Linked DNA regions of Homo sapiens: region 1 is linked to region 2. The links come from fine-mapping of genetic effects on gene expression. A gene starts in region 2. The other region holds a variant in brackets. All regions are shown on one strand. Distances are between the middles of the regions.

Region 1 (5,380 bases), 30 kb after region 2:
CCAGCTTCTCAGTTGGACCACCTAGGTAGTCCCTTCATTTCTTCCCTCTTGAGTGGACCTTCATCTTCCACCTGCATTCAGAAATTCTCTTCTCTTTGCTCCTGAAACATCTAGAGCTGAGAGAGACTGATGTGGTTGGTGATACTCAAACTCAGCCAGAATGAGTTAGGCCCTGTCCCTGTCTATACTAATGAATAAGAAGCTTTGAAGACTCTAATGCTAGATCTTCAGGTAAATGGCTCTATTTCCCAGACTACATGAGCTTTGGAAAGCATATTTCATGAGTTCCATAAATATCTCCCAGAACACGAGTTCTTAAGTTTTTCTGCATACTAAAATCACCTGTAAATCTTTAAAACTCCTAATGCTCAGGCCACGACCCACATCAATTGGGACCACCTGGGGGGTGGGATCGAAGCCCTGCCCCTGAGGTGATCCCAATGGACAAAAAAAGTTATGAACCCCTGCCCTAGAAAGTGGCAGGATGAGGAATTAAACATAAAGATCATCACCTCATATTTTTCTTCCATAAATAAAGTATGTACAAGAGACCCAGATTTTAACAACAATTTCACATACATTCAAAGCTTTATGCCTCTTTGTATTTTGATACAGTGAAGTAAAACTCCGTTAGAAGTTTAAACGTTATGCCAACCTTCTCCCTCCCCACCTCATGTCTATTTCTAAGCTACAACTATTTATTCTACAATTATTCCTTCAACAAAGATGTATTGAGTACCTACTATGTACCAGGCACTGGGGATACCCCAGGAAATAAAGCAGACATGACTTACACTTGTGAAATTTATTTCTGCCAGAGGGGACATATGATAAATAAGAAAGCAAATAAATAAACAAGATTATTACAAAAGTGGGATGTGTATAAGGACAGTAATAGAAAAAGGATAATATGAGAGCAAGTGTGCTGCATCTGTGGGTGGAGGAAAAGAGCAGCTGATTCAGGTACCCAGGAAAGTCCTTTTTGGGAAGATGACATTTGGGGTGAGATCTGAATGGTAAAGGAGCCAGCCATGCGAAGATCTGGGGCAGAGCATGCCAGGCAGAAGGAGGAGTGAATGCAAAGACCCTGAGGCAGGAACGAACTTGGCTAGTTCCAGAGCCTGACAGACTGGAGTGTGGTGAGAGGCAGGAAAGCAGGACAAGACAAGGTCAGGAAGGAGTTAGCAACCAGCCTGTCAGGGCCTCGCTAGGTCACAAGAAAGAGTGGATTTGATTTAAAATGCAGTGAAAAGCCACTGGAGGATGAGATTTATGTTTTTAAGATGTGTAAGAAAAGACTGTACAGGGCAATAGAGGAATTCGTCCCTTGGGTAATAGTTGCTTGTTTTAGAGGTAAGCAACTGTTTAGAGGTAAGACCAGCAGAATTTGCAGAAGGGTTGCAGCTTGGAGGGGCAGTGATGAGGATGAGGGAAAGGGGAGAATCAGAAACAAGTCGGTCTGAGTAACTGATTTGATGGTGGTGCTGTGCCATGAAACAGGGAGGTCTAGGTGAGGTACCCTTTGGCAGATGAGAGAGCAAAAAATCAAAAGCTGTGTTTGAACATAATAACTTGGTGATTCCTTTCAGCATCCATTAATACCCATTAAAAGATAATGTCCATTAGGACAAATCTGGAGCTCAAAAGAAAGGTCAGGGCTATAAATTTAAATATGGAAGGCACTGGCATAGAGGTGGTATTTAAAACTTTCGGACTGGATGAGTTCATGTAGGGAGATGATGTAGATAGAAAACAAAGGAGAGCTAGGGGCTGGGCACTGAGGTGCTCTCTTAAAACCTAGGAAGAAAAGGAAGATCCAGCAAAGGCGACTGAGTAGGGGCCAGGGATTTAGGGTGATAGGGCCCTGGGTGTCAAGAGAAAAACTGTCTCAGATGGAAGGTGAGACAGTTTTGCCAATGCTGCTGAAATGTCCAGTAAGATAAGGACAGAGGGACCAGTGAATTTTGTGAGAGAGGTTCTTGGTGACCTTGACATGAGCAGCCAGAGGAGCACTGGGAACAGAAGTCTGGATTGGAGGGCTGAAGAGAAAGTGAGATGTGAGGACGTGGAGGCAGTGGCTATTGGCCCATCTACCAAGAGCTTCTGCTCTTCATGGAAACATGTACTTATTCCCTATCCTGATCTAGACCTCTGAATATACAGATCTATTAAAGTATGCACATTTTTCTTCTTAAAGAACAAGTGTATACACTAGATGCCTGATCTCAGCTTAAATATACTCAGTGCATCCCGTGTTTGACCTAATGGCTACAAGAAACTTGAAACATGAATGAATGCTAAGGAGAGGATTAGCTCTGCTCTCACCCCATGCAGGAATAACTTCTGGAAAGATGCTCCCTCCCAGCCCCACCTCTTCAGCTAACCATCATAAATAATCAAAGAGAAAAATATATGATCCCCTTAAAATGCCTATAAAGAAAGAAAGAAAGGTTGATTATTAAATGACAGGAAAGGTTATCCAACATAGAGAGCTTCAATTTTAAGTAGCACAAAGTAACACTTTCTCACATTCCTATTCAACTTAAAACCTGAATAAATTCAAATAGCTTTTAGCTGAACTAGATTTTCACTCTCCTTCCATAGCAGACAGGAAGACATACATCCTCCTTTATGGAGATTAAATGGTCCTGCCAATATCTTTTAGATTATGACCTCAAGAAGCAACGGAATATTTGGCCAGTTATTGTCAAAGGAGCAGCTTAATATCAGCTTTGAAAAAGGTAAAAATCTACTTTATTGGAAGAAAGTCTTGGGAATCAAAATGGGTAACACAGAAAGTCTTGAAAAGACTTAGTTGTCTGGGGTGTCTATGTAGACAAGCCCTT[G/C]GGGGTACAATTGTGATGGAAATAAATTACTCTACAGGTGCCAATTTAAGTCTGTATTTTGCACAGAAGGATAATTTGTCACTCTCAAAGTCAAAATACAGTAGTCTTGCCCTGTGTAGCAGGACTTTCAGAACTGAAGTCCAGAAGTCTCTTTGGGTAGGTAATATCCTCATTAAACATCAAGGAACAGACAAAAAGTAGCTCATGATATTGGGGCAGGGCTGAGTTTGAAGACAGAAGCCCATAGCCGTACCAGTAAAGGGAAGATATTTCTGATTTCTGTAGACAAACTTCAACTGGGAGCAAGAGCTTGTGAGTACAGTGAGGAAGTGGAGAGCATATGGGAAATTCTGAGAGGGACTATGTGAGAAATCCAATGAGCATCAGATATCTCAGGTCAGGGAGCATAAAGAAAAAGAAATTATGTTAACTAGGGTGATTATGTTCCTTATGGTGTTTATTGTCGCACGCGTTCACAATAAAAAATCCAAATACCTTTAGTAACAGTAATAGTTGTTCTTATAGGATGAAAATCTTCATCCTATTTACATGTATCCCTGCAATTCAGTGTGCAAATCACAGACATTACTTTCAAAACAAAATGTATCAATAACATAGAATACCTACATTTCAGGTGCTAAAGGTATTCTTTTAACTGACCTTCACTTACGTGAGTCACTGGATTAAGGGAAACTTTCCATTCCCTCTGTGAAACCTATTGACTAATGCCTTGTTTAGCAAGCTACTTCTAGTACCAGATATGGACTTCTGACCCACCCATTCAGTTGTATGCTTACCAAGAGTCAGCTATGCTGGTTTCCAAACCTGTTTTTGCCACATTTTGATTAGGTGATTTGATGAAATAGGAGGGAAAAAAGAGCTGTTAACATAAAAATTAATTTGATGAGCTAGTAAGAAAAAAAAATGCTATCAAATTTGGTGTGGCCAAGGTAACTATAAAAGACTGTGACAAATAATCATAAAATTCCAGAATGATTCTGCACTAGGTGTGCATTGCAAGTATCTTCAAGTTTCTTCTAGACTTTAAAGAAATTAAAACTGGAAATTGGAGATGATGTTTTATGTGTCGCTTCTCAGCCTTTTGGCTAAGATCAAGTGGAGATGATGTATAATGAGTATGGTTCTTGCCAGATGAAGAACTCCAACCAGTGGATTCATACTCAAAGAGAAGGTCTTAGTCCAGGGGTGTCCAATCTTTTGGCTTCCCTGGGCCATGTTGAAAGAATTCTCTTGGGCCACACACAAAATATTAACACTAATGATAGCTGATGAGCTAAAAATAAAAATCGCAAAAATAAATCTCATAATGTTTTAAGAAAGTTTACAAATTTGTGTTGGGCCACATTCAAAGCCTTCCTGGGTCACTTGTAGCCCTTGTCCGCGGGTTACAAGCTTGGTTTAGGCTATCACCAGAAGACTGGTAGGTCAATGTATAATTATGTGTCTCAATTTAAAATAAGTTTAAGATATATAGTTAGCGTTGAATTTTTAACCACCCAATTACCTGTCTTGGTAAACTGGGTAGGAGAGTTTTTACTGTACCTGCTAGGGATGTTCACTTTGGGCTCTCTAAGCTTTACCTCTCCCCAGAAACTTGGCTAAAATCATGGTATTCAAGAGAAAGAGCCTAGGAATGTGAGTTTCTCTAAGTTCTATTCCTGGATCAAGACAGAGCCCCAGAAAGCTACATCATGGACCATTTTGCTTTAGATTATGATAGAAATTCCTTCACAGAGACATGATTTTAGTGTTAGACTCTTGACTTTCATTGATGATCCAGGGAAGAGTCTGTCATATGAAGAATATCTCTGCCTGCTCTGCTATGCTGCTAAAAGCATTCCATTATGCTATTCAAAGCCTGATAAATGAAGATCCATATGACAAACTTCTCTTAGTGCTAAAAATCTGCAGGCAGCCACATGGGAACACTGGGAAGAGTGGAAAAGACAGGAAAGAAAGAGGAAAGAACTCATAACCCTAGACAGAACTAATGTTTCATCCAAGTAAATAGAAAGCTCTTTTTTTAACCTCTTCTTTAACTTGTTTTCTTATGGATTTATGAATTTTAAAGTTGATAAACCTAAGAAGTATGCATTATTTTACCTACTTAGTGGAAACCATATACATAGCTAATTTTAATTAATATTATTATCAAAGATATGAATGCTTTTATAAAACAATCTTTAACTTTTTTCTGTCTCCCTAATTTTAAAAATTGGCTTAACTTACACACAATAAAATTCATTTTTTGTTGTACATTTCTATGAGTTTTGACAAATGTGTAGAGTTGTATAACCACTACCAACATCAAGATACAGAAGAGTTCCATCACCCCCAAAACATTCTCTCATGTTGCCACTTCATAGTCAATCCCTTCCCCTTTTCATAGCCCCGGCAAACTCTGATCTGTATTTTGTTCCTACTATTTTGTCTTTGTTTTGCCTTTGTTTTGTCTTTGTCAAAATATCATCTAAGCTAAATCAGAAGCATGTAGCCATTTTTTTTCCTTTTCT
Region 2 (5,380 bases):
GCTGGGCACAGAGCCTCATGCCTGCAATCCCAGCACTTTGGGAGGCTGAGGCAGGCAGATCACCTGAGGTCAGGAGTTTGAGACCAGCCTGGCCAACATTGTGAAACCTTGTCTCTACTAAAAATACAAAAGTTAGCCGGGTGTGGTGGCACGTGCCTGTGGTCCACTCAGCTCAGGTTGTAGGAAGGGGTTCCTACAACCTCCTTCTCAGATTTGGTAATTCACTAGAATGACACAGCACTCAGGAAAGAGCTTTTCTTACTATTACCAGTCTATTCTAAAGAATACAACTCAGGAGCGGCCAACTCAGGCATGTCTGTGGAACTACTCAGAAGTCTGCACTACAGCCTGGGAAACAGAGTGAGACTCCGTAGAATGAACGAATGAACAAAAGAATGAAAGAAAGAGAGAGAGAAGGAAGAGAGAGAGGAAGGAAGGAAGGAAAAAAGGAAGGAAGGAAGGAAGGAAGGAAGGAAGGAAGGAGGGAAGGAAGGAAGGAAAAAAAGGAGGGAGGGAGGAAGGGAGGGGAGGTAATTGAGATTGCAGGAAAGAGAAAGGGTCAGGGAGCTGACTAAGCACTAACCTGTTATCTTCTTATATTTGGGGAGATTCAACCAGCAGAAGAGCCCTTTCTCTCAGTCTCTGGGACATCTAAACACCTGGAGGATAGCAGCACACCAAGGTCTGGGCCTGAGAGCTGATGCCTCCTTTCTCTAGTCTTTGATAGGGAAAACTCACTCTCAAGCTTGTGTGAAGTTCTGGTCAGGCGCAGTGGCTCACACCTGTAATCCCAGCACTTTGGCAGGTGAAGGTGTGTGGATTACTTGAGCTCAGGAGTTCAAGACCAGCCTGGGCAACATGGCAAAACTCTGTCTTTACAAAATATTAGGTGGCATGTGCCTGTAGTCTCAACTACTTGGGAGGCTGAAGTGGGAGGATCACCTGAGCCCAGGAAGTTGAGGCTGAAGTGAGCTCTCATGGTGTCACTAAATTCCAATCTGGGTGACGGAGCAAGACCCTGACTCAGAAAAAAAAAAAATGTAGCCAAATATCCACTCAGTGATCCATCTGTTAGGTTTTTTTTCCTTCCCACCCAAATACATGATGTCTTTTCCAATAGCACTTCTCCAACTCTCTAACACCAATTAGGTGGCCTACAACTCATTTCTGGCACTAACTACCCAGAGTTAACGTCAGATTTACAGGTTTAAGGGCTCAGTCCCACAAGACTGCCCTCATCTCAGAGGCCAGTCACAAGTATGGGATCCACAGGTTACCAACTCTTCTCTCCATCTTGGCGACAAATTCAGGGGTTCCTATAACCACCTTCTCAGATTTGGTAATTCACTAGAATGACTCACAGCACTCAGGAAAGAGCTTTACTTACTATTAGCAGTCTATTCTAAAGGATACAACTGAGGAGCAGCCAACTGGAAGAGAAACATAGGGCAAGGTATGGGAAAAGGACATGGAACTTCCATGCTCTTTCCTGGTGTACCACCCTTCCAGCACCTAGATGTCTTCCACAACCCAGAAGCTCCCCACACTCTATTGTTGTTTAGGAGTTTTACAGAGGTTTCTTTATGTAGGCATGATTGATTAAATAATTGGCCATTGGTGAGGAACGCAGTCACTAGCTCCTCTCCTATCCCCTGAGATTGGGGGATGAGGCTGAAAGTTGCAAGCAACTAATCAAGGCTTGGTCTTTCTGGTGACAAGATGGCTTATCATAATAACTCAGGCAATTTCTAAGGGTTTTAGGAGTTCTGCCCTAGGGACTGGGGACAAAGACCAAATAACTCTCTTATTATAGTACCCCATTATATTTACTTGTCTTGTAGAAAAGGTTGTAAAGCCACCCTCCTTAGGATATTAACCTTCCTGGCTATTTCAGGCTTTCTCTTTCTATGTACTCTCCATATCCCTTTAACAGACTGACCAGGAACCTCTAATCTGTTCTTATTAGGATTACTAATACATAACTAGTTTTCCTATGGGAGACCCCTTTATCTCCCTCTCCAAACAAATCATTCAGGAGAACAAGCATCCTTAGAGCCTTAGAGTTGAATGCCACAACACTCTCTCTTCCTCCCAGAAGAACCTTAGGAAGATGTCAGTGGGAAGGGTGAACTTAAATGGCTGAGGGCCTCACCCCCACTCCTTTCACACAAGAATCATCCCCGATTTTCTGGGCCACCTCTGTTGGCCTCTGGGTTACTGATATCCCATAAGTGAGAAGAAGGTCATTTTGAGTGTCCAGGGAGATCTCTTGGCTCTTATTTGTTCAAGTCTCCGGAAGGGAACTCTAGGAGCTGAGTCCTGAGACCCTGCAATGCAAGACCAAGAGCTTTACTACTTGAAATGGGATGGGGATGAGGCCCAATCTGAGTGAATGCCTCTGTGCATTCTGCCTCACTGGCTCTCCTCTTTCCCCCTCCATGAACAAGGACAAAATAAAAACAAAACAACTCAGGGAAACAAAGCTCTCCTTTTAGGTTATCAAGAGGTCTTCCATTTGGAGCAAAACCTCACTCCCTCCTGTGGCCCCTGTCTCAGTCTCAGTTGGTGAGGGCCTCAAGCCCACACTGGCTTATTTGAAATCCATGTTTAGGTCCCAGCATGTGGCATGTGCTCCACTCTGATGACACTTTTCGTTTCTAATAATAGAGCAGATGAAGTAATATTGCAATTGATGTTCCCGGGGATTTGATTGGATAAGTGCATAAACTGTGGAGGGGGAAGGGGGTTGCATGGACAGATCACATTAGTATTCCCGTCCTATCAATGTGCGGGCCCGCGAACAACGTCAGCCGGACCGATTCTCTGCGTCTGCCAGTCCCGCCACAGATTCATCTGGGATCTTCAAACAGACAAGCCCTTAGAGACGAGGGATCAAGGCAGCCGATTAGAGCCAATTGCTTGCTTTGGGGACGGCCAGTCCTTCCAGGCCTGGCGACAGTGGAGGGAGGGGAAAGACGAACCGAGTGCCGCTGCGGGAAGACACTGAAGCAAGAGCGACACCCCTTTCCGCCCCCCACCTTGCAGCGCAGGCTTTGAAAGCTGCTCCCCCACCTGAATGGAAACTCGGAACCGCCGGGCGGCGCGTTCCTTCTCGCCCAGCCTTGCAATCCATGCCGAGAGGAAGGCAGTGCGAGCCCGCGCCAGCGCCCAGCTCCCGGGACAGGGTCGGCAATGCTGCTGAGCAGAACTTGATCGCGCTCCTTCCTCGCTGCTAGTGGAAGCGATGCTGCACGGCACAGCTAGCGCTTCCCCGGCTCTCCTTCAAGCTGAAGGTTACCGACCCGCGCAGCCAGCCCCAGCACTGTGAGCTGCGCGCCTCAGGTCCGGGCTCCGGCTGCTTGGCGGCGGCGCCCAGGGCAACAACCGGGCCGCCCGCGCCGGGGCGCACTGCACCAGCGGCTTCGGCTTGGTGGATGTGTATGCATGAGTTCTGCACCGAATGGGCGCAAAAAGCGCCCCAGCCGGTCCACCCGCTCCTCGATCTTCCAGATCAGCAAGCCCCCGCTGCAGAGCGGAGATTGGGAGCGCAGGGGCAGCGGCTCCGAGAGCGCCCACAAAACCCAACGAGCCCTGGACGACTGCAAGATGGTGGGTGAAAACTGCGCCTCTTTTTTTTTTTTTTTAATTGAGAGGGGGTGGGGGGAGTCATGTATGTTAATCATTTGCCTGAGTGCCAGCCACTCCCCCACCCTCAGCTCCTCAATGCCGATCACGTGGCACATGCACTATTTTTAAATCTGCAGTCCCCCAAATTCAGGGTGACACCCTGGTCGTAATAACCCTGCAGAAAGAAGTGTGACAGCAAGGGTCTTGGGGATCAGCGGCTGTAGGTTGTGCCTGTACCCCCTCGAAGAATGGTGGATGCGAAAGACACAGTGAACTGGCTCGCTCACGGAGGAGGGAGGGATGAGGAGGTGGGGATGCTGCTTTCTGGGGACAGAGTAGCAAACAAACCCAAATACAGCGCACGGGGCGCTGCGGAGGGGTCGAAGGTTCCAGCGCAGAGGCTGTAGCTGGTCTTCCCGTCAGGCCGTCAGGCCGAGAGGTTCAGTGGCCCAGCAAAAGGTGAATGGTTTGCCTATTACACCCTACCTGTCGCCTCCCCCGCCCCTCCCGCCGTGCAACTTAAAAGCCATGTCCTAGCAGTAGGAGAGGGGACCGTCTATGTAGGAGTCCCCAGCATCATTCTCTGTTGGCCTGGGAGTGGCATGGTAGCGCTCCAAATATGCTCTCTTGCTCTTCAGAAACTGAGTCTGAAAGGGTGAGGGGAAGTAGGTCTGGAAATAGAGCTTCCATGGCCAGGCTTGCCTATGGAAATAAATACTTGCCTTGGACAAAGAGACTTGCCATTTTGGTGCCTTCTGCTTTAAACAATTCCTAGGTTCCTTAGCTGGAGATCTGGGGAGCTGACTCAGGGGTCAGTGAAAGCCCCTGTTTATGTACTCCGAAACAGGAAACTTTCTGATGAGAAATGTTTGGTAAAAAAAAAAAAACTCACTTCTTTTCCAGCTTGTCCAAGAGTTCAACACACAAGTGGCCCTGTACCGAGAGCTGGTCATTTCTATTGGGGATGTCTCGGTCAGCTGCCCCTCACTCCGGGCGGAAATGCACAAGACAAGAACCAAAGGCTGTGAAATGGCCCGTCAGGCACACCAAAAATTGGCTGCCATCTCAGGGTAGGAGACTCGGCATTATTTGGTAATCCATATACATGATGCATGGATGCTGACAGAATTTTATGGTAGTCAAGTCCTCAGACATGATCTCCACATATTTGAGATTTTAACCTTAAGATCGAAATTCTCTAGAGAGCTATACACAAACTATAGGCCAAACCATAATTTGAAGGCTGTGTCATTCTTGCATATATGTATATATATTTAGAAGATTTGGATCAAATGATTTTTTAAAAACTTAATTTTCAATACTCTGGCCACATTCTGGAATTTGGAGCATAAGATTTGGGGTGGATGGCTGGACATCAAACTGAAGTTAAATCATCTTGCCTCAAAATTATTTTGTCATCTGCTGCTGAACAAAAGGCCTGTGCTGTAGAGAAAAACTCTTTCCCAAATCCCAGATTTACTAAACTATTTATACCATGAGATAAATTCCTATGATACCGCCTAAAATAAAATCCCTAAAATAAGGTCTTAGATATAAATTACTCTCTTCACTGTGGTGATAGGAAGGGGTAAGTTTTAGCATAAGAACAGTTTTTAAAGATTGGGGAAATTCACATATCTCAATAAACCTAACATGATTTTGTCCCCCAAATTTTTATTTATTTTCATCAGATTTATCGTTTTTCTAGCCTGTATTAGGAGATAATTCAGTATGTGAAAACTTCTCTCTTGGG

Evidence for each region. PIP is the estimated chance that this variant, and not a neighbour inherited with it, causes the effect.
Region 1: its variant is the best candidate, but not a certain one, in a credible set for the expression of RGS7BP in nasal epithelium (TOPMed, PIP 0.62).

The regions. Positions count from the first base shown.
Region 1 is chr5:64,533,122-64,538,501 of GRCh38, forward strand. The region is part of intron 2 of RGS7BP (regulator of G protein signaling 7 binding protein); the gene reads left to right. Among named protein-coding and RNA genes, the nearest start is that of RGS7BP, 30 kb to the left of the region's middle. The variant G/C (reference allele first, on the strand shown) is at 2,847.
Region 2 is chr5:64,503,181-64,508,560 of GRCh38, forward strand. It overlaps RGS7BP (regulator of G protein signaling 7 binding protein), which reads left to right and starts at 2,835. Exons shown (of 6, transcript NM_001029875.3): 1 at 2,835-3,609; 2 at 4,531-4,697. The coding sequence starts at 3,445.